Regions from separate parts of the Homo sapiens genome. Here all the other regions are linked to region 1. Evidence: fine-mapped expression QTL. A gene starts in region 1. Each other region holds a variant in brackets. All regions are shown on one strand. Distances are between the middles of the regions.

Region 1 (7,135 bases):
GTGCCAGGCCATTTTTTTTTCACTTTTTTTTTTGGAGACAGGGTCTCTGTCACCCAGGCTGGAGTGCAGTGGTGTAATCATGGTTCACTGCAGCCTTGACCTCCCAGGCTGAGATGATTCTCCCACCTCAGCCTCCCAAGTAGCTGGGATTACAGGCATGCTGCAGCACACATGGCTAAGTTTTTGTAGAGATGGGGCTTGCCGTGTTGTCCAGGGTGTTCTGGAACTCCTGGCCTCAAGGGATCTTCCTGCCTCAGCCTCCCAAAGTGCTAGCATTACAGGCGTGAGCCACTGTGCCCAGCTTGTTTTGTTTTTTTCATACATGCTCTCATTCTGTCACCCAGGCTGGAGTGCAGTGGTGCAATCATAGCTCACTGCAACCTCAAACTCCTGGGCTCAAGCAATCCTCCCACTTCAGCCTGACACCATAGGCACACCACCATACCCAGCTAGTTTAAATAATTTTTTTGTAGAGAAAAGGTCTTGCTATGTTGCCCAGGCAGGTCTCAAACTCCTGGCCTCAAGGGATTCTTCAGCCTCCCAAAGTGCTGAGATTACAGACATGAGCCACCATGCCTGGCCAAAAACAAATTAGATTAGAAAACAATAAAAAGTAGTGAGAAGTGATTTGACAATGCTGAGGAAAGAAATGGAAGGGCAAATAAAAAGCATTATGTAGATGAAATTCACATAAGGAACAACAAAAATAATCACTACAAGGTCACAATGAGGCCTGGAGAAATAATAAAAAATGAAATGAATACAAATGTGATTACAGAGAAAACCAGTAACTAAAGAAAGATAATCAAATACATATAATTAGTGTTCCTAAAGAAAAGAGCAAACACAGGCCGGGCGCAGTGGCTCACACCTGTAATTCCAGCACTTTGGGAGGCTGAGGCAGGCAGAGTACCAGAGGTTGGGAGTTCGAGACCAGCCTGACCAACATGGAGAGAAATCCTGTGTCTACTAAAAATACAAAATTAGCTGGGCGTGGTGGCACATGCCTGTAGTCCCAGCTACTCGGAAGGCTGAGGCAGGAGAATCGCTTGAACCTGGGAGGCGGAGGTTGCAGTGAGCCGAGATCGCACCACTGCACTCTAGTCTGTTGACAGAGCGAGACTCTGTCTTAAGAAAAAAAAGGAAGTTGGCCATTAATTCAAATAAAAACAAACAGCATGAGCCAAGAAAATGTGTCTACACTCAAAGCTGGCCTAGGGGCCACTATTTTTTAACTTAAGAAATGCCACTATTTCATGCCCAGTTCTTAGTATCTTTTAACTATGTCAATCCTTTTTAATTCACATTCATGGGCACGCATTAGGTGAAGCTAAACAAAGAATCTATGCCTAGAGGAAGACTCACACATGAAACAAGGTAGTAAGAGCCTATGAATTAGATGCTAAAAGCGCTGCGGTGGCAATCCGGGAAGGCTTCCCAAAAGAAATGACTTTTGAAGTGTGATACCCTACTTTGTTTTAACCTGAGTGACTCTCTCCTAGCAGAGAGAGAGCCGGACAGACTCCATTTTAGTTTCTCCACTGGCAGCCCCCTTTCACCTCCCTCCCTTAAGGCATAGCTAGTGTAAACTGACTCAAAGCACGTCCAGGAATGCACCTACTGATAAGATATTGAGGCAAGCTGCACCAGCAGCTCCTGGGGACGCGCTCGGTGGATGGCAAGCAAAACCCCTGCATTTATCTCTTTGTGATAGTTTAAGCCCGTGCAATTGGAACTGTTTATATTTTGTAACTGCATTTGTAACCAATTAATTTTTCAACTTTTTGCCAGTTCTGCTTCTGTAAAAATTGCTTCAGCTAAAATCCCCCCTCCCCTATTTAGACCACGGTATAAAAACAAAACTAGCCCCTTCCTCAGGGCCGAGAAAATTTTGGGCGCTAGCTGCCTCTCGGTTGCCGGCTAATAAGGACTCTTTAATTTGTCTCAAAGTGTGGCGTTTCTCTGTAACTCGCTTGGTCACAATAGAAGCTGCTCCTAAAAGCAATGTAGACCCTTACAAAGAGACCAGCCCACCTAAATCCCTCCCTTGTTTGAACTCTAACAGTCCTAATATTTTAGACTGAGTAGTAGAACATATATGAACAATACAGTTCATTCCTGTGGCTTAGTCTAGCCTCCCCAGCGGGGTCACTCGTGGGATGCAAAAACCAGATTTGGTTACATATACAAATATACCTGGCACAGATGTGGGCGAGGAATAATCAATTTATGCCTGACGGTGGATTCTGGGCCTCGGGAAGATGCCGTTAGCGGTACCCACAGGAGGGAACTGGAACAGGCAAGAGTAGCGGGACAGGGCCGGGAATGGGGCACGCCGAGACCAAGAAGCCGACCGAGAGCAAGAAGGCCCAGTCATGCGCACCCGGCGCCTACATCCTCCTGCGGTCCCCCAGGCCTCTCCCCATAGGCATATGAGCTCTGCTCCACTCCTCGCTTGCCGGTGGACGCAGGCGCCGCGGCCGCCAGCTCTGTGAACGCAGCGGGGTCTCACCTCCAGGCTACCCCCAACCTCCCGCTCGGTCGGGGGCCCCTCCACGGCCGCTATCACTGGGTCGCGGCTCCTAGCGCCACCATCTTGGACCCCGCGCCTGGGCCAGGCGAGAACTTCCGGTGCGCTCCCCGGGACTGCGGTCCCCCAGTCCGCGCCCCGCCCAGCCGTCCCCCGTCGGCTCCAGCCAATCCGCGCGCGCTCCCCTGGCCGTCTCCCACCGGATCAGGTGTCTCCTCTGCGCAGACTCCTCCACGACGCCAGTCGGCGCTGGCGTAGCTCGGCTCAGCCCGGCGGAGTCTGACTTCCGGAGGGCCAGCGGCGCGCTGGCTGGTTACCAAGGTTACCGCCGAGAGGCCGCGTCCTCAGCTGGTCCTAGACATGCGTGGCGTCGGGGCTGTGGCACGGTCGGGTCCGGGGTGAGTGACCCCTTCAAGTAACTACGTTTTTGTTCTGCCCTTTTGTTTTGTTTTTGAGATGGAGTCTCGCTCTTTCGCCCAGGCCGGAGTGCAATGGCGCGATCTCGGCTCACTGCAGCCTCCATCTCCCAGGTTCAAGCGATTCTCCTGCCTCGGCCTCCCCAGTAGTTGGGATTACAGGCGCCCACCACCACGCCCTGCTAATTTTTGTATTTTTAGTAGAGACGGGGTTTCGCCATGTTGGCCAGGCTAGTCTCGAACTCCTGTTCTGCCTGTTCTGTTTTCATCTTTTGTTATTGTTCCCTGCATGCATTTGTGGTCTCATTCATTGATGACTTCTATTTGCAATGCCCGGTCAAAGGCTAGGCGATACAGATCCCAACAAGGACAGCTTAATGTTTAAAAGTGTAAGTTCCGAAGTGAGAAAGTCAGACACTCAGAATCCTTGCCCCACCACTTAGGGGCTATGTGACTTTGAACAAGTTACCTATTAATAGCTTCTTCGCGCCTCCGTTGCTTCATTTGTAAAGTGAGGTAAATAATAGGACCGACCTCACTGACATATGTATGTGAAGTTTGCATGTGGCGAAGGCCAGATACATATTAGTTATTACTATGGAGATGATGTTGGTTCGCGTAGCGTAGGATCGTGGTAAGGGTTATATATGTATGTAAAGATGTAAGATGTCCAACCCCAAGCCTTTCCGAAGCAAAACTGTCAGTGCACTAGTCACTTTGGCTTCTCATATCTCTCTGTCCCAAACTTTGGGTTGCACGAATTATGCACGTTTCACTCTTGAATTTGTAAATGCAGCTACTACCAACTATTCCTTAATTTGCACAACTACATTTGAGATAGTATTTCATTGACTGTGTTACATTTTCATTGAAATACTGAGCCATGTCTCAAATAGACTTCAATTATAGTTGCTTTTATAGTTCCTTTTGCTTTACCTCTCTTAATAAGAGTGCACTAATAGAAGTTACTCTTTGGAATTTAGAAATGGGTTTTTAAGGCAGGGCACGGTGGCTCACACCTGTAATCCCAGCACTTTGGGAGGCCTAGGAGGCCGCATCACTTGAGCTCAGGAGTTCAAGACCAGCCTGGCCAGCATGGTGAAACCCCCGTCTCTACTAAAAATGCAAAACAATTAACTGGCATGATGGCAGGCGCCTGTAGTTCCAGCTACTCGGGAGGCTGAGGCAGGAAAATAGCTTGAACCCGGGAGGTGGAGGTTGCAGTGAGCCGAGATGGAACCACTTCACTCCAGCCTGGGCAACAGAGCAAGACACTGTCTCAAAAAAATAAAAAAAAAAATAGACTGTTCCGTGTCCTCTGCTCCTAGAGGCCCAGCCTCTGTGGCCCTGTGACCTGCAAGTATTGAGAGATCCACAGCTAAGACACCGGGATCCTCTGGGAGGCAAAAATGAGTTAGAACTCATAAGTGGGAGTTGAACAATGAGAACACATGGATAGAGGGTGGGGAACATCACATACCAGGGCTGGTGGGGGGTGGGGGGCTGGGGGAGGGATAGCATTAGGAGAAATACCTAATGTAAATGACGAGTTGATGGGTGCAGCAAACCAACATGGCACATGTATACCTATGTAACAAACCTGCACGTTGTGCACATGTACCCTATAACTTAAAGTATAACAAATAAATAAAATAAAATAAATGGGTTTAAAAAAAATCGTACAGGCTGGGCGAGGTGGTTCATGCCTGTAATCCTAGCACTTTGGGAGGCTGAGGCGAGTGGATCACTTGAGGTTAGGAGTTCAAGACCAGCCTGGCCAACATGGTGAAACTCCGTCTGTACTAAAAAATAAAAAAAATAAAAAAAAATTAGCCGCGCATGGCAGCATGAGCCTGTAGTCCCAGCTACTAGGGAGGCTGAGGCGGGAGAGTGGCGTGAACCCAGGAGGCAGAGCTTAAGTAAGCCAAGATTTTGCCACTGCACTCCAGCCTGGGCGATAGAGCAAGACTCCGTCTCAAAAAAAAAATAAAATTATCTGGATGTCGTGGTGCGTGCTTGTAGTCTCAGCCACCTGGGAGTCTGAGGCAGGAGAATCGCTTGAATTGGAGAAGCGGAGGTTGCAGTGAGCCAAGATCGCGCCACTGCACTCCACCCTGGGTGACAGAGCGAGACTCTTCTCAAAAAAAAAGAAAAGAAAAAAGAAAAAAGAAGTGGTGTAGATCGTGAAAGTATTAAAAGGGAAAATATTTGTAACATGCATGATAGGAAAAGGGATAACATGCATGACATAAAAGAGCTCCACATGACTTCAGGTTCCCTGAGAGTGCCTTGGGTTTTCCTCAACATTCACTGTATCACCAGTGCCCGGCACAGAGCCAGCACTCCATACATATTTGTAGAATGAATAAATTACATAATGAATCCATGCTGCTGTCAGGGGTAGCATGTGAACTCTAAAGGAGATCAAAAAGAAGAGCTATTCTTTTTAAGACTAAAAAGCCAAAATAACCACTTTTGGCAAGACTTATATATTTCTCAATAAAAAAATGCAGCTGCTGTCTTCCCCACACCCACTGCCTCCCATTTTCATTTTTCTGGCTTATGCAGATCTCAGTTCTTAAAATAAATTTTTTTAAACTTTATTTTGTTATTTTAAAAGTAGTATAAGAATTACAAGAAAACATTCGTACACATGTAAAATGGTTCTGACGACAACTAACCCTGACAGATTTTTTTTTTTTTTTTTTTTAAGAGACAAGGTCTCACTCTGTCAGTGGCATGATCATAGCTCACTGCAGCCTCATCCTCCTGGGCTCAAGTGATCCTCCAGCCTTCTGAGTGGCTGGGACTACAGGTACTGCCACCATGCCTGGCTAATTTTGTTTTTAGTTTTTTGTAGATATGGGGTCTGCCTAGATCGACCAGGCTGTTCTGGAACTCCTGGCTTCAAGCAATCCTGTCACCTTAGACTCCCAGAGTGCTGGGATTACAAGCATGAGCCAAACCTGCCACCACTCCTGGCCTACCAGATTTCTTTTCTTTTCTTTTCTTTTTAACTGAGATGGGAGGCTCCACTCTGTGGCCCACGCTGGAGTATGGCGGTGCAATCACAGGTCAGTGCAGCTTCAAACTCCCAGGCTGAAACAATCCTCCCACCTCAGCATCCCAAGTAGCTGAGACCACAGGTGCACACCACAACACCCAGAAAATGTTTGTACTTTTGGAGAAACTGAGTCTCACTATGTTGCCCAGGCTAGTCTTGAACTCCTGGGCTCAAGCAATCCTCCCATCTCAGCCTCCCAAACCCAAACTGCTGGGATTTCAGGCGTGAGCCACCGTGCCCGGTCTTGGAGCTTATTTTATTTTATTTTATTTTATTTTATTTGAGACAGAGTCTTGCTCTGTCACCAGGCTGGAGTGCAGTGGTGTGATCTCAGCTCACTGCAACCTCTGCCTCCTGGGTTCAAGCGATTCTCCTGCCTCAGCCTCCTGAGTAGCTGGGACTACAGGCGCGCACCACCACACCTGGCTAATTTTTGTATTTTTAGTAGAGACGGGGTTTCACCATGTTGGCCAGGATGGTCTCGATCTCTTGACCTCACGGTCTGCCTGCCTCAACCTCCCAAAGTGCTGGGATTACAGGCATGAGCCACTGAGCCTGGCCCTCTTTACTGTCTTATGCGGTCACTCAACACAATACTTCTGACACCAGATGGGTGGGGGCTTTCTCCACATACTGAGCAATTCTCTAGCAGACACCAGATAGCTGTCCTCTAATTCAATTCAATCTGACACTATCTACCTGGAGATAGTGTTAGATCCCGCAGTCCCACAAGACTACTGCCCACTTCAGATGCCAATTGTAAACTCTTGGCTGTGACCTGTATTTCTGACAAACTGGCTCTAAAGTGAGGTTCCCACAAATCCCTCCTAGGGTTTGCCAGGACAGCTCACAGAACTCAGGGAAACACCTTACTTATATTTACCCATTTATGATAAAGGATATTACAAAGGATATAGGTTAATAACCAGATGGAAGAGATGCATAGGGCAAGGTATGCAGAAAGGTGTGTGGCACTTCCATGCCCTCTCTGAGTGCCATCCTCCAGGAACCATCCACCATCCTCCATGTGATCAGCTATCTGGAAGCTCCTAGAACTCTATCCTTTGGGGTTTTTATGAAGGCTTCATTACATAGGCATGATTGATTAAATCATTGGCCATTGGT
Region 2 (5,000 bases), 180 kb after region 1:
TTGTTGGCCAGGCTGGTCCTGAACTCCTGACCTCAGGTGATCCACTTGCCTCGGCCTCCCAAAGTGCTAGGTGTGAGCCATGCACCTGGCCCATCAGTAGCTTATGTCTTCATTAATGGTGTCTTTTAATGAACAGAAGTCCTTAATAATGTAGTCAAATTTGGCCGGGCACGGTGGCTCACACCTGTAATCCCAGCACTTTGGGAGGCCGAGGCGGGCAGATTACCTGAGGTCAGGAGTTTGAGACCAGCCTGACCAACATGGAGAAACCCTGTCTCTACTAAAAATACAAAATTAGCCGAGTGTTTCGGCGCATTCCTGTAATCCCAGCCACTTGGGAGGCTGAGGCAGGAGAATCGCTTGAACCCGGGAGGCGGAGGTTGCAGTGAGCCAAGGTCATGCCATTGCACTCCCGCCTGGGCAACAAGAGTGAAACTCCGTCTGAAAGAAAAAAAAAAATCAAATTTATTAATTATTTCTTTATGGTTTGTGATTTTCCTCCTTTTTAAAAAGGAATCTTTTCCTATGGAGTTATGAAGATATCCTATATTATAGAGGTTTTATTCACATTTATATCTAAAATTCCTCTAGAACTTAGATACACACACACACACACACACACACACAGTGTAGATAAGGGTAAAACTTTTTTGTCTCGCTGTGTCGCCCAGGCTAGAGTGCAGTGGCACGATCTTGGCTCACTGCAACGTCTGCCTCCCAGGTTCAAGCGATTCTCCTGCCTCAGCCTCCTGAGTAGCTGGGACTACAGGCACCCGCCACCACGCCCGGCTAATTTTTTATTTTTAGTAGAGACGGGGTTTCACCATCTTGGCCAGGCTGGTCTCGAACTCCTGACTTTGTGATCCATCCGCCTCGGCCTCCCAAAGTGCTAGGATTACAGGCGTGAGTCACCGTGCCCAGCCAAGGGTAAAACTTTTTTTTAAAAAAAGTATGGATAGCCAATTTCTGTATGACTTGGTGAAAAGATCCACCTTTCCCCCATTGCTCTGTGTAGATTAGTTTCAGAACTATCTTCTGTTCAGTTGGTCTGTTTGCCTTTTTTTTGTGCTAAATTCTGCACTGTGATTTATGTGAAATAAAATTTTCTCTCTTTTTTTTTTAAACCCGAGATGGAGTTTTGCTCTTGTTGCCCAGGCTAGAGTACAGGGTGCGTTCTGGGCTCACTGCAACCTCTGCCTCCCGGTTTTCAAGCAATTCTCCTGCCTCAGCCTCCCGAGTAGCTGGAATACAGGTGCCCGCCACCACACCCAGCTAATTTTTTTTTACTTTTAGTAGAGATGGGGTTTTACCATGCAGGCCAGGCTGGTCTCGAACTCCTGACCTCAGGTGATCTGCCCGCCTCAGCCTCCCAAAGTGCTGGGATTACAGGCATAAGCCACTGCACCCAGCCTGATTTTTTTTTTAAACATCTTTAAACATAGCTACAACTAGGTCACGTGAGTTACTGTCTGCCTAGAAACCCATAGAATGCTCTTTGTTAATGTATGGCTGCATGTGACTCGGGTTTTGGCACTGCCTTGTGTTATCTGAAAGGCCAAGGCTTTGCACATAGCAGATGTGCATGCAGCTGTTGGATGATGGTCAGTGGTTCCCATGAACAAATAAAATGTCAATTCCAGACACTAAATAGTTAGAAGATGGAAGAGTTAGTTTCAGAATAACCGATTTCCTAACTATGTTTCTATACATGTGTTTTTTTAAAGATCTCTGCACTCGTCCTAAGAGCCCAGGCCTCCGAGATCTTACTTGAAGAGTTACAGCAGGGGCTTTCCCAGGCAAAGAGGGATGTTCAGGAACAGATGGTAAGTTTACATTTTAAGTAAATGACAACTATGTTACTATATATTCCTTTTTTGTTCTATCTTGACATCATCTTTGATAGGAATTTATCATCCTGTCCAAAGTAGTTACTGTTGTCTTCTCCCGGGACTGTAGAACATTAATAATGGACAAAATATTGTAAAGACATTATTCCTTTTTTAAACCTACTTTCTGGCCAAACAAAAATTTTTTCTCATCGTTTAACTTATTTTTCTGATTTGGGAAACCTAAACAGAATAAACTATGGACCTAATTTAATTTTTAATTCCAAATAAAAGCTAAAAAATTGAATGTCTGAGAGCCCTAGCTGGTACAGCTTTTGACCAGTCATTTTGTGATTTTCCTGGATGGCTAATTTATTTAGAATAACCTTATTAGGGCTGGGCTGAGGCGGGTGGATCACGAGGTCAGGAGATTGAGACCATCCTGTCTAACATGGTGAAACCCCATCTGTACTAAAAATACAAAAAACTAGCCGGGCGTGGTGGTGTGCACCTGCAAATCCCAGCTACTCGGGAGGCTGAGGCAGGAGAAGCGCTTGAACCTGGGAGGCTGAAGTTGCAGTGAGCTGAGATCGCGCCACTGCACTCCAGCCTGGGTGACACAGCAAGACTCTCTTTCAAAAGAAAAAAAAAATAACCTTATTAGTTTCACAGGGGTTATGAAAAAAAACATGTAACTGTTGTGGTGCTGGGGACCTTCCAGAAGGCCATCTATGCTGAGAGGGATGGGGGCAGAGTGTTATGAGCAAGTGCCGGCTAGAGCCTTTGCAGATAGTCCCCAGGCTTGGGCTCCCTCCTCACTAGTCTGGCTGCATTTGCTTTGTTTTTCCTTTCTCAAAGTTGGAGCCTACATCTGATGCCTCCAACTAAATTAAAGTAGAGGTGGCTCTGCTGGGGTGATTCTACAAGGCTGATGCTTACCC[G/A]GGGATGACAGTTTAAAAATAAAAGCCTTGGGTGGAATGGTCATTGAATGTTTTTAATTGGCATTATTAGGTCAGTATCTGAATGGCCTATGAGCTGATCCCTAAATCTTAAACCTGGTCTGTTGGGAAGCATCTCATCCTAATCATTGACCCATAGTTTCATGTGTTTTCTCTAATTAGAAAATACAATATAACACTGGCGTAAAAATCACTGCTAAATACTGACAGTTTCATAGCGGTGAGCCTCCTACACTCCTTCGACCCCTTGCATCTTTTTCCTTCTTGTCTTTTTTTTTTTCTTTTTTGAGACAGAGTTCTGCTTTTGTTGCCTAGGCTGGAGTGTAATGGCGCAATCTCGGCTCACTGCAACCTCCTCCTCCTGGGTTCAAGTGATTCTCCTGCCTCAGCCTCCTGAGTAGCTGGGATTACAGGCATGCACCACCACACCCGGCTAATTTTGTATTTTTAGTAGAGACGGGGTTTCTCCATGTTGGTCGGGCTGGTCTCGAACTCCTACCTCAGGTGATCCACCCGCGTTGGCCTCCCAAAGTGCTGGGATTACAGGCATGAGCCACTGTGCCCGGCCTCCTTCTTGTCTCTTAAAACCATCAGCCCTTGCAGACACTTTTCAAGCTGGTTTCACTTAAAATGAATGTGTGTCAGTGACACTGGAGAACTGTTGAAATTAAGGTTGAGGTCCTATGAACTCCAGTACATGACCATTTTGTTGAAATTACCATAAAGAAGAGAAACTCACCACGTTAGTGCATGCTTGCCCTTGTTCTTAGTCTTTCTGTGTATGTTTGTAGGTATATGATGTGTGTGTGTACGTATGTCTTGGTTTGTGTTTTTTGCTGGACTGTTTGGAGTTATTGTAGACATGACAGTCGTAAGTATTTTAGTATGTATTTCCTAAAACAAAGAGTTGTTCTGCATCGCTACAGTACTGTTATTACATCCTTAAAATTTAACCAGTTGTCCCAGTAAGTCCTTGATTACTTTTTAGTGGTGGTTTTCCTTTTTATATTTTCTATATTTTGATCCAGGAACCAATCAGTGATCACATATTTCATCTTGTTGCCATGTCGCTTTAGTCACTTTTCATCTAGAACAGTCTCCCACTCTCTTTTTATTTTTAAGAATCCGGCCAATTGCTTTGTTTCAGGCCATCTGTCTTGTAGAATTCATTTGTCTGATTATCTCCTTGTGATTTGATTCAGGTTAGACATCTTGGCAAGAATACTGCACAGATGAAATGGTTCAATGGGAGGTTCATAACATAATGAGGCACGTTAATGATGGGTGCTTCCATTACTGGGGATGTTAAATTTGATCACTCGGTTAAGGTGGGGACAAAATAGTTTCAGAATGACTATATCAATATTACTACCAACAGCAAATCTACTAAGTAAAGGCCAACATTTCTTTGTAGTTCTGCCCTTAGACTGTATCTCAGATAAGGGTTTACAGTTTAAGTACTGTGTTCAAATGTTAGTTTTTCTCTCTGTGGTTGTATTAGGAATTTGATATATAGTTAGCTCCATTTGTTTCTCTTTTTTTTTTTTTGTTTTTGAGACGGAGTCTTGCTCTGTCGCCCAGGTTGGAGTGCAGTGGCGCGATCTCGGCTCACTGCAAGCTCCGCCTCCCGGGCTCACGCCATTCTCCTGCCTCAGCCTCTGGAGTAGCTGGGACTACATGCGCCCGCCACCACGCCTGGAGAATTTTTTGTTTTTTCAGTGGAGACGGGGTTTCACCGTGTTAGCCAGGATGGTCTCGATCTCCTGACCTCGTGATCCACCCGCCTCGGCCTCCCAAAGTGCTGGGATTACAGGCGTGAGCCACTGCGCCTGGGCTGTTTCTCTTTATATTACATTTTCAGATTTGATTTTTCTTTCTTGATTTATATTTTGAATATGTAACATGGTTCATAATCAAAAGTATAAAAATAAATACTCAGCTCCATTTCCATTCCCTGTCCTTTTCACCCCATTTCCACTCACTCTTATACGTAATTATTTTAATTTATTTTTGGCTTATCCTTCTGTTTTTCTCTTTACAAAAACAAGCAAATATATACATATTCTTTTTTCCCTTCTTTCATATCCAGAAGGTGGTGGGATACTAAGATTTTGTTGTAAATGGGTGACAGTGATCATAAAGCACAGTGGATTCTAGTCTGAAGACAATAAGAGCCAGTGGGCTTTAGCCAGAGCATATGCATGGCCGTGACTGC
Region 3 (7,932 bases), 23 kb after region 1:
GAGACCCTCGTCCCTACAGAAAAATTTAAAAATTAGCCGGATGTGGTGGTGCATGCCTATAGTCCCAGCTAATTGGGAGGCTGAGGCAAGAGGATTTCCTGAGCCCAGGAGGTTAAGGCTACAACGAGCCATGATCACGCCACTGCACTTCAGCCTGGACAACATGGTAAGACCCTGTCTCCAAAAAAAAAAAAAGAATGGATGAAAAGAAACAGACCAGAGCCCAGTAGTCATATGAGTGCTGTTGTGTTACAGATCCTAATTTTTACAAGGAAGTGAAACAAATCATATTTCCTTTTTGGCACATCCCTTCCAGTGACTTACACTGTTTTCCAGGACTCTCTGTAATTGCTTATGTACAAATCTCTCTAAGAAGAAAGGGGATGGCGTTGTTTTCAAAAGGTGGAATTAGTACAGAACAGGTTCATAGGAGGCTGGGGCGCGGTGGCTTATGCCTGTAATCCCAGCACTTTGGGAGGCTGAAGTGGGCAGATCACCTGAGGTCGGGAGTTCGAGACCAGCCTGATGAAACTCTGTCTCTACAAAAATACAAAAATTAGCTGGGCGTGATGGCGGGTGCCTATAATCCCAGCAACTCGGGAGGTTGAGACAGGAGAATTGCTTGAACCCAGGTGGCAGAGGTTGCAGTGAGCCAAGATTGCACCATTGCACTCTAGCCTGGGCAACAGAGCGAGACTCTGTCTCAAAAAAAAAGAAAGAAAGAAAGAAAAAGAAACAAAAAACAAACAAAAAGAACAGGTCCATAAGTAATAGAAGGATGATGAAACAGCTCAGCTCCATCTTTGATGGGGATTGGAACTGCCTCTCCCACAATCTCATCTTTTCCTAAGAAAACCTGAAATGCCACTATTTGCAGAACTCTGCAGTTTGACAGACCAGAGTTCATGTTCACGTTCCAGCAGTCATTAGCTGTGTGACTATAGGTAAGTCACTTATCTGTGCCTGAGCATCCTCATCTGTCACAGAGGAATAAAAATGTACCTGGCTTGGGCCGGGCGCGGTGGCTCACGCCTGTAATCCCAGCACTTTGGGAGGCTGAGGTGGGTGGATCACGAGGTCAGGAGATCGAGATCATCCTTGCTAACATGGTGAAACCCCATCTCTACTAAAAATACAAAAAATTAGCCAGGCATGGTGGCAGGCACCTGTAGTCCCAGCTACCCAGGAGGCTGAGGCAGGACAATGGCATGAACTCGGGAGGTGGAGCTTGCAGTGAGCCGAGATTGCGCCACTGCACTCCAGCCTGGGCGACAGACCGAGACTCCATCTCAAAAAACAAACAAACAAAAAAATGTACCTGGCTTGTAGAGTTGTGAGGAGTGAATGAGCTAATACCTGTAAAGTGCTTAGTGTGGGACCTGAAACACAGCGCATGCTCAATAAATGTTAGCTAATATTATTTATCTATCCAATCAAAATATTTTTCTTAAGTATCGACTGAGCCTCACGCCCTGTTCTAGGTAGTGGATAAATATTAATAGTGGTGGACAAAAAAGGTTCCTGTGTTCCTGAAGTTTATACTCCAGTGGAGGAGATCAATAATACATAAATGAACAATAAGTAAATAACACAATTTTGGATAACTGTCAGTTTCATAAAGGAAATTAGCAGAACTACTTTAGGTTGAGTGGACAGAGAGGGCCTCTTTGAGGTGGTAACTTCTGAGCTGACATCTGAAGGATGAGGAAAATCCAGCGAGGCAAAGAGCTTAAGGAAGAACATTCCAGTCAAAGGAACCAGGCAGAGTTTTTCTGATAGGAAGTGAAAGGCCTAGTGACACCCCATGTTTCTTTCTGTTTATGTTCCAAGCTGGGATTTGAACATGAATTTACACCCTTATATCAGGCTATTGGGTGCGTCGGTACTTATGCTGCCCCCTTTTTGCTTTTCCATCCCTTTTTTTTTTTTTTTTGAGACAGGGTCTCACTCTGTCGTCCAGGTGCAGTGATGCTATCGTGGCTCACTGCAGACCTCCCAGGCTCAAGCGATCCCCCCACCTCAGCCTTCCAAGTAGCTGGGACTATAAGTGTGCACCATCACGCTGGCTAATTTTTGTAAAGATAGGATTTTGCCATGTTGCCCAGGCTGTTCTCAGACTCCTGAGCTCAAGTCATCAGCCCGCCCTGGCCTTCCAAAGTGTTGGTATTACAAGCATATGCCACTGTGCCTGGCCTCTGGCTATCTCTTTTAAACAGGATGCTGGCTGTGTGTGGTGGCTCATGCCTGTAATCCCAGCACCTTGGGAGGTCGAGGCGGGTGGATCACTTGAGGTCAGGAGTTCAAGACGAGCCTGGTCAATATGGTGAAACCCCGTCTCTACTAAACATACAAAAAATTAGCTGAGTGTGGTGGTGCACGCCTATAATCCCAGTTACTCAGGAGGCTGAGGCAGGAAAATAGCTTGGACCTAGGAAGTGGAGATTGCAGTGAGCTGAAATCATGCCACTGCACTCCAGCCTGGGTGAGAAACCAAGACTCTGCCTCAAAAATAAAATAATCAGGATGCTGCATCTATAAATCCTAGTGTTACAGACTGAATGTTTGTGTCCCCCCAAAATTCAGGTGTTCAAGCCTTAACCCCCAGTGAGGCTATATGTGGCCATAGGGATGAGGCCTTGATCCAACAGGATCAGTGTCCTTGTAAGAAGAAACACCAGAAATCTGACTCCCTGATGCTCTTCCCCAGCTTGAATGCACCAAGGAAAGGCCATTTGTGGGGACATAGCAAGAAGGCAGCTGTCTGCAAGCCAGGAGGAGAACCCTCACCAGAAACCTCACAGAAATCGGCCAACACCCTCATCTCGGGCTTCCAGCTTCAGAACAACGAGAAAACAAATTTCTGTTGTGTAAGCACCCCAGTCTATGGTATTTTTGTTACAGCAGCCTGAGCTATCTAAGACACCTTCATAGGGGACGGGCGTGGTGTCTCACACCTGTAATCCCAGCACTTCGGGAGGCCGAGGTGGACAGATCATGAGGTCAGGAAATTTAGACCATCCTGGCTAACATGGTGAAACCCCGTCTCTACTAAAAATACAAAAAATTAGCCAGGCGTGGTGGTGGGCACCTGTAGTCCCAGCTACTCAGGAGGCTGAGGTGGGAGAATGGTGTGAACCTGGGAGGCGGAGCTTGCAGTGAGTGGAGATCGCGCCACTGCACTCCAGCCTGGGGGACAGAGCGAGACTCCATCTCAAAAACAAAAAAAAGTGGCTCACGCTTATAATCCCAGCACTTTGGGAGGCCGAGGCCGGTGGATCACGAGGTCAGGAGATCGAGACCATCCTGGCTAACGCGGTGAAACTCCTTCTCTACTAAAAATACAAAAAATTAGCTGGGCGTGGTGGCGGGTGCCTGTAGTCCCAGCTACTCCGGAGGCTGAGGTAGGAGAATGGCATGAACCCGGGAGGCGGAGCTTGCAGTGAGCCGAGATCGTGCCATTGCACTCCAGCCTGGGTGACAGAGCAAGACTCCATCTAAAAAAAAAAAAAAAAAAAAAAAAGACACCTTGATAAACTCGTTATCTTACCCTAAATGAAACTGCTACCAGTAAAATATACTTACAAGAGTCTTCTAGAGAAGGCCAATTCCTCGGTGGCAGAGGCGGTAATTGAACTGGCGACTCATTAAGAACATTCCTAGAGAGAGAGAAAGAGAGAGAATCAGTGTTTGGTTTGGGCCATGCCTGCTCCCAGCCGATTTAAGAGAAAACATCAAGGAAAGTGAATGGGTTGAACATTCAAATCTTGGTCTCTACTAATTGGAAGCATTTCCTTTCCTTTGTAGGTCCTGGTTCCCATTTGTAATTGGCACCCTAATGAAACCGTTTTCTGTAGCCCTGGAAATGGCTGAAAATGAGGGGAGGGAAATAAAGTGCTATAATTCAGAGCATGGAGCACACCTTCCTGGTTCACCTGAGCTGGATTCGGAGAGGTAGGCACCAGATGTATTTCTATTTGCAAAACAGATGAGCCGGGCATGGTGGCGCATGCCTGTAATCCCAGCACTTTGGGAGGCCGAGGCAGGCGGATCACCTGAGGTCAGGAGTTCAAGACCAGCCTGGCCAATATGGTGAAACCCTGTCTCTACTTAAAAATACAAAAATCAGCTGGGCATGATGATGCTCACCTGTAATCCCACCTATTCGGGAGGCTGAGGCAGGGGAATCACTTGAACTTCGGAGGCGGAGGTTGCAGTGAGCCGAGATCATGCTACTGCACTCCAGCCTAGGCAACAGAGTGAGACTCTGTCTCAAAACAAACAAATAAAAAAACAAAAAACAAAAGCAGATGAAC[T/G]CCTAAAGCAGAATGTACACACACCTTGAGTCAGCATTTCCACTACTGGGTCTACAGACTATTGAAATGCTCGCATCTGTTCACCAAAACATGCATTAGAATGTTCAGAGCAACACTATTCATAACAGCTCTGAATTGGACACGACCTGTATTAGTCTGGGTTGTCCAGAGAAGCACAGACACATAAAATTTGCCATCACACAACTCAAATGTCCATCAGCAGTAGAATGGATAGATTAATTATGGTAAAGTGACTGGGCAAGGTGGCTGACATTGGTAATCCCAGCACTTTGGGAGGCGAAAGAGGGAGGATGGCTTGAGCCCAGGGGTTTAAGGGTAATATAGGGAGACCCTGGGCAACACAGGGAGACCCAGTCTCTACAAAAAAATCAACATAATTAGCAGGTTGTGGTGGCATACACCTGTAGTCCCAGCTACTCAGGAGACTGAAGCAAGAGGATCACTTGAGCCCAAAATTTGAGGTGACAGTGAGCTATGATTGCACCACTGTACTCCAACCTGGTTGAGAGTGAGACCTTGTCTCAAAATAAATAAATAAATAAATAAATACTGGTGTACTCCCACGGTGGAATGTTCTATAGCAACAAGAATGAACAATCTACAACTACACACAATGAATCTCATAAAAATGATGTTGAGCAAAAAAGCCAAACACCAAATAATATATACTATATGATGCCATTAATAGATTGCATAAAAACCAAAAAGCTGCTGGGCACGGTGGCTCATGCCTGTAATTCCAGCACTTTGGGAGGCCAAGGCAGGCAGATCATGAGGTCAGGAGATCGAGACTAGCCTGGCCAACATGATGAAACCCAGTCTCTACTAAAAATACAAAAATTAGCCAGGTGTGGTGGCGCATGCCTATAATCCCAGCTACTCAGGAGGCTGAGGCAGAAGAATTGCTTGAATCTGGGAGGCGGAGGTTACAGAGAGCCAAGATCGCGCCACTGCACTCCAGCCTGGGCAACAGAGTGAGACTCCATCTCAAAAACAAAAAAACAAAAAACAAAAAAAACCCAAAAAGCTAATTTATACTATCACAGACAGTGATTGCCTTTGGGATGTAATGGTTGAAAGGCTGTATAAAGTCAGCCTCTGAAGTGCTGGTAACGTCCTATTTCTTGATCTGGGTGCCAGTGACCTGGGTCTGTTGAGTTCGTGGAAATTCATCAGGTTGCACACTCAGTATTTCCATTTTCCTGTATTTATATGATACTTTGGTACAAAGTTTTAACTAAAAGATAAACTCTAAGAAAACTTCCTTACTTGGGCCTCCATCCCCCTAGGTACACTGATTTGACTCCTATATGCTATAAAGTCCCCCTGAGAATGAATAAACATTTTTAGGTTGTTAGGTTGAGTGCAGACGGGGACATGGGGGTAGAGCTCCACCGGCGGCTCTCACCATCCCTCTGTAGCTCTTCCTAAGAGAAGAAAGCAACTCATCTGACTGCTAAATTTGGGAAAAGTCTAGCTCCTCTCACTTTCTCCTCCAGAGCTGGCCTGACTGCAGAATTCACAAATCCTGCTCTGGTCTTTGCCATTCAGAAAAAGGGGTCTACTCGGTGGGGGAGACCTGAGGTTTTCCGGAGCTGCCTGTGAACTGGTTAGGAAAGTCACCCGGTTCCAAATTAGGAAACTCACTAGCTCACAGAAAAGAGCCACATTCTGCAATCCCAGTTTTATTCTTTTTTGTTTGCTTGTGTGTGTGTGTGTGTGTGTGTGTGTGTGTTTGTTTTATTATTATTATACTTTAAGTTTTAGGGTACATGTGCACAACGTGCAGGTTTGTTACATGTGTATACGTGTGCCATGTTGATGTGCTGCACCCATTAACTCGTCATTTAGCATTAGGTATATCTCCTAATGCTATCCCTCCCCCCTCCCCCCACCCCACAACAGTCCCCGGTGTGTGATGTTCCCCTTCCTGTGTCCATGTGTTCTCATTGTTCAATTCCCACCTATGAGTGAGAACATGCGGTGTTTGTTTTTTTGTCCCTGCGATAGTTTGCTGAGAATGATGGTTTCCAGTTTCATCCATGTCCCTACAAAGGACATGAACTCATCATTTTTTATGGCTGCATAGTATTCCATGGTGTATGTGTGCCACATTTTCTTAATCCATTCTATCGTTGTTGGACATTTAGGTTGGTTCCAAGTCTTTGCTATTGTGAATAGTGCTGCTATAAACATACGTGTGCCTGTGTCTTTATAGCAGCATGATTTATAGTCCTTTGGGTATATACCCAGTAATGGGATGGCTGGGTCAAATGGTATTTCTAGTTCTAGATCCCTGAGGAATCGCCACACTGACTTCCACAATGGTTGAACTAGTTTACCGTCCCACCAACATTTTTTTTTTTTGAGACAGGGTCTCACTTTGACACCCAGGCTGGAGTTCAGTGGCACGATCACAGCTCACTGCTGCCCTGACCTCAGGGGTTCAAGCAATCCTCCCACCTCAGCCTCCCAAGTAGCTGGGACTACAGGCAGACACCACCACACCTGGCTAATTTTGGTATTTTTCTCAGATATGGGTCCCCACTATGTTGCCCAGGCTGGTTTCAAACTCCTGGCCTCAAGCCATCCTCCCACTTGGGCCTCCCAAGTGCTGGGATTATAGGCATGAACCACTGCCCCTGGCCAATACCAGTTTTAGTTTTTTGCTTTTTTTTTTTTGAGACTGAGTTTCACTCGTCACCCAGGCTGGAGTGCAGTGGCACGATCTTGGATCACTGCAACCTCCACCTCCTGGGTTCAAGCAATTCTCCTGCCTTAGCCTCCCAAGTAGCTGGGATTACAGGCACACACCACCATGCCCAGCTAATTTCTGTATTTTTAGTAGAGACAGGGTTTCACCATGTTGGCCAGACTGGTCTCGAACTCCTGACCTCAGGTGATCTGCCTGCATCGGCCTCCCAAAGTCTGGGATTACAGGTGTGAGCTGCTGCACCTGGCCCCAGTTTTATTCTTAAAAAAGGCAATATTTAGTCACCTGACTGCCTGACACATTTGTCTTATTCTTGAAAGGGATCAGAATTGATGGAGGCAGGGGGAGTCTTATTTGCTGGATCCCTGAAGCTACAACAAAAGCCATTTTAGAAAAGCAGAGATTTAAAAATGTTTTGTATACAGGGTCTCACTATGTTGTCCAGGCTGGTCTTGAACTCCTGGCCTCAAGTGATACTCCCACTTTGGCAAAGTGCTGAGATTACAGGCATGAGCCACTGCACCTCGCCCCAAGTGTAAGTTTTGTTTTAGATAGTGTGTATACTCCAAAGAAAGGACTGGCTCTTGACTGGCTCCTGGGAAATAATCTCTAAACCCTTGGAATATTCTTCCTAATAAGAGTGTCTCCGGCCGGGCGTGGTGGCTCACGCCTGTAATCCCAGCACTTTGGGAGGCCGAGATGGGCAGATCACGAGGTTAGGAGTTCGAGACCAGCCTGGCCAACATAGCGAAACCCCGTCTCTACTAAAAATACAAAAAATTAGCCAGGTGTGGTGGCGCGCGCCTGTAATCCCAGCTATTCAGGAGACTGAGGCAGGAGAATCACTTGAACCTGGGAGGCAGACGTTGTGGTGAGCCGAGATCG

Which allele goes with the higher level. Alleles are on the strand shown, and positions count from the first base shown. SD is a standard deviation of normalised expression in the study named. Not every link is listed here.
With allele A in place of G in region 2, the expression in minor salivary gland of the gene that starts at base 2,772 in region 1 is higher (moderate effect, 0.64 SD a copy in GTEx).

What was found. PIP is the estimated chance that this variant, and not a neighbour inherited with it, causes the effect.
Region 2: its variant is fine-mapped to the expression of ZNF594-DT in minor salivary gland (GTEx, PIP above 0.99).
Region 3: its variant is fine-mapped to the expression of ZNF594-DT in fibroblasts (GTEx, PIP 0.98).

What each region holds. Positions count from the first base shown.
Region 1 is chr17:5,189,236-5,196,370 of GRCh38, forward strand. ZNF594-DT (ZNF594 divergent transcript) reads left to right here and starts at 2,772. Exons shown (of 6, transcript NR_152840.1): 1 at 2,772-2,928. It overlaps ZNF594 (zinc finger protein 594), which reads right to left and starts at 2,633. Exons shown (of 2, transcript NM_032530.2): 1 at 2,513-2,633. RefSeq lists a silencer at 2,568-2,767.
Region 2 is chr17:5,366,646-5,371,645 of GRCh38, forward strand. It overlaps RABEP1 (rabaptin, RAB GTPase binding effector protein 1), which reads left to right. Exons shown (of 18, transcript NM_004703.6): 12 at 1,725-1,823. Among named protein-coding and RNA genes, the nearest start is that of NUP88, 51 kb to the right of the region's middle. The variant G/A (reference allele first, on the strand shown) is at 2,768.
Region 3 is chr17:5,211,343-5,219,274 of GRCh38, forward strand. SCIMP (SLP adaptor and CSK interacting membrane protein) reads right to left here. Exons shown (of 5, transcript NM_207103.3): 4 at 3,583-3,656. ZNF594-DT (ZNF594 divergent transcript) reads left to right here. Exons shown (of 6, transcript NR_152840.1): 3 at 2,708-2,867; 4 at 3,805-3,951. Among named protein-coding and RNA genes, the nearest start is that of SCIMP, 20 kb to the right of the region's middle. The variant T/G (reference allele first, on the strand shown) is at 4,314.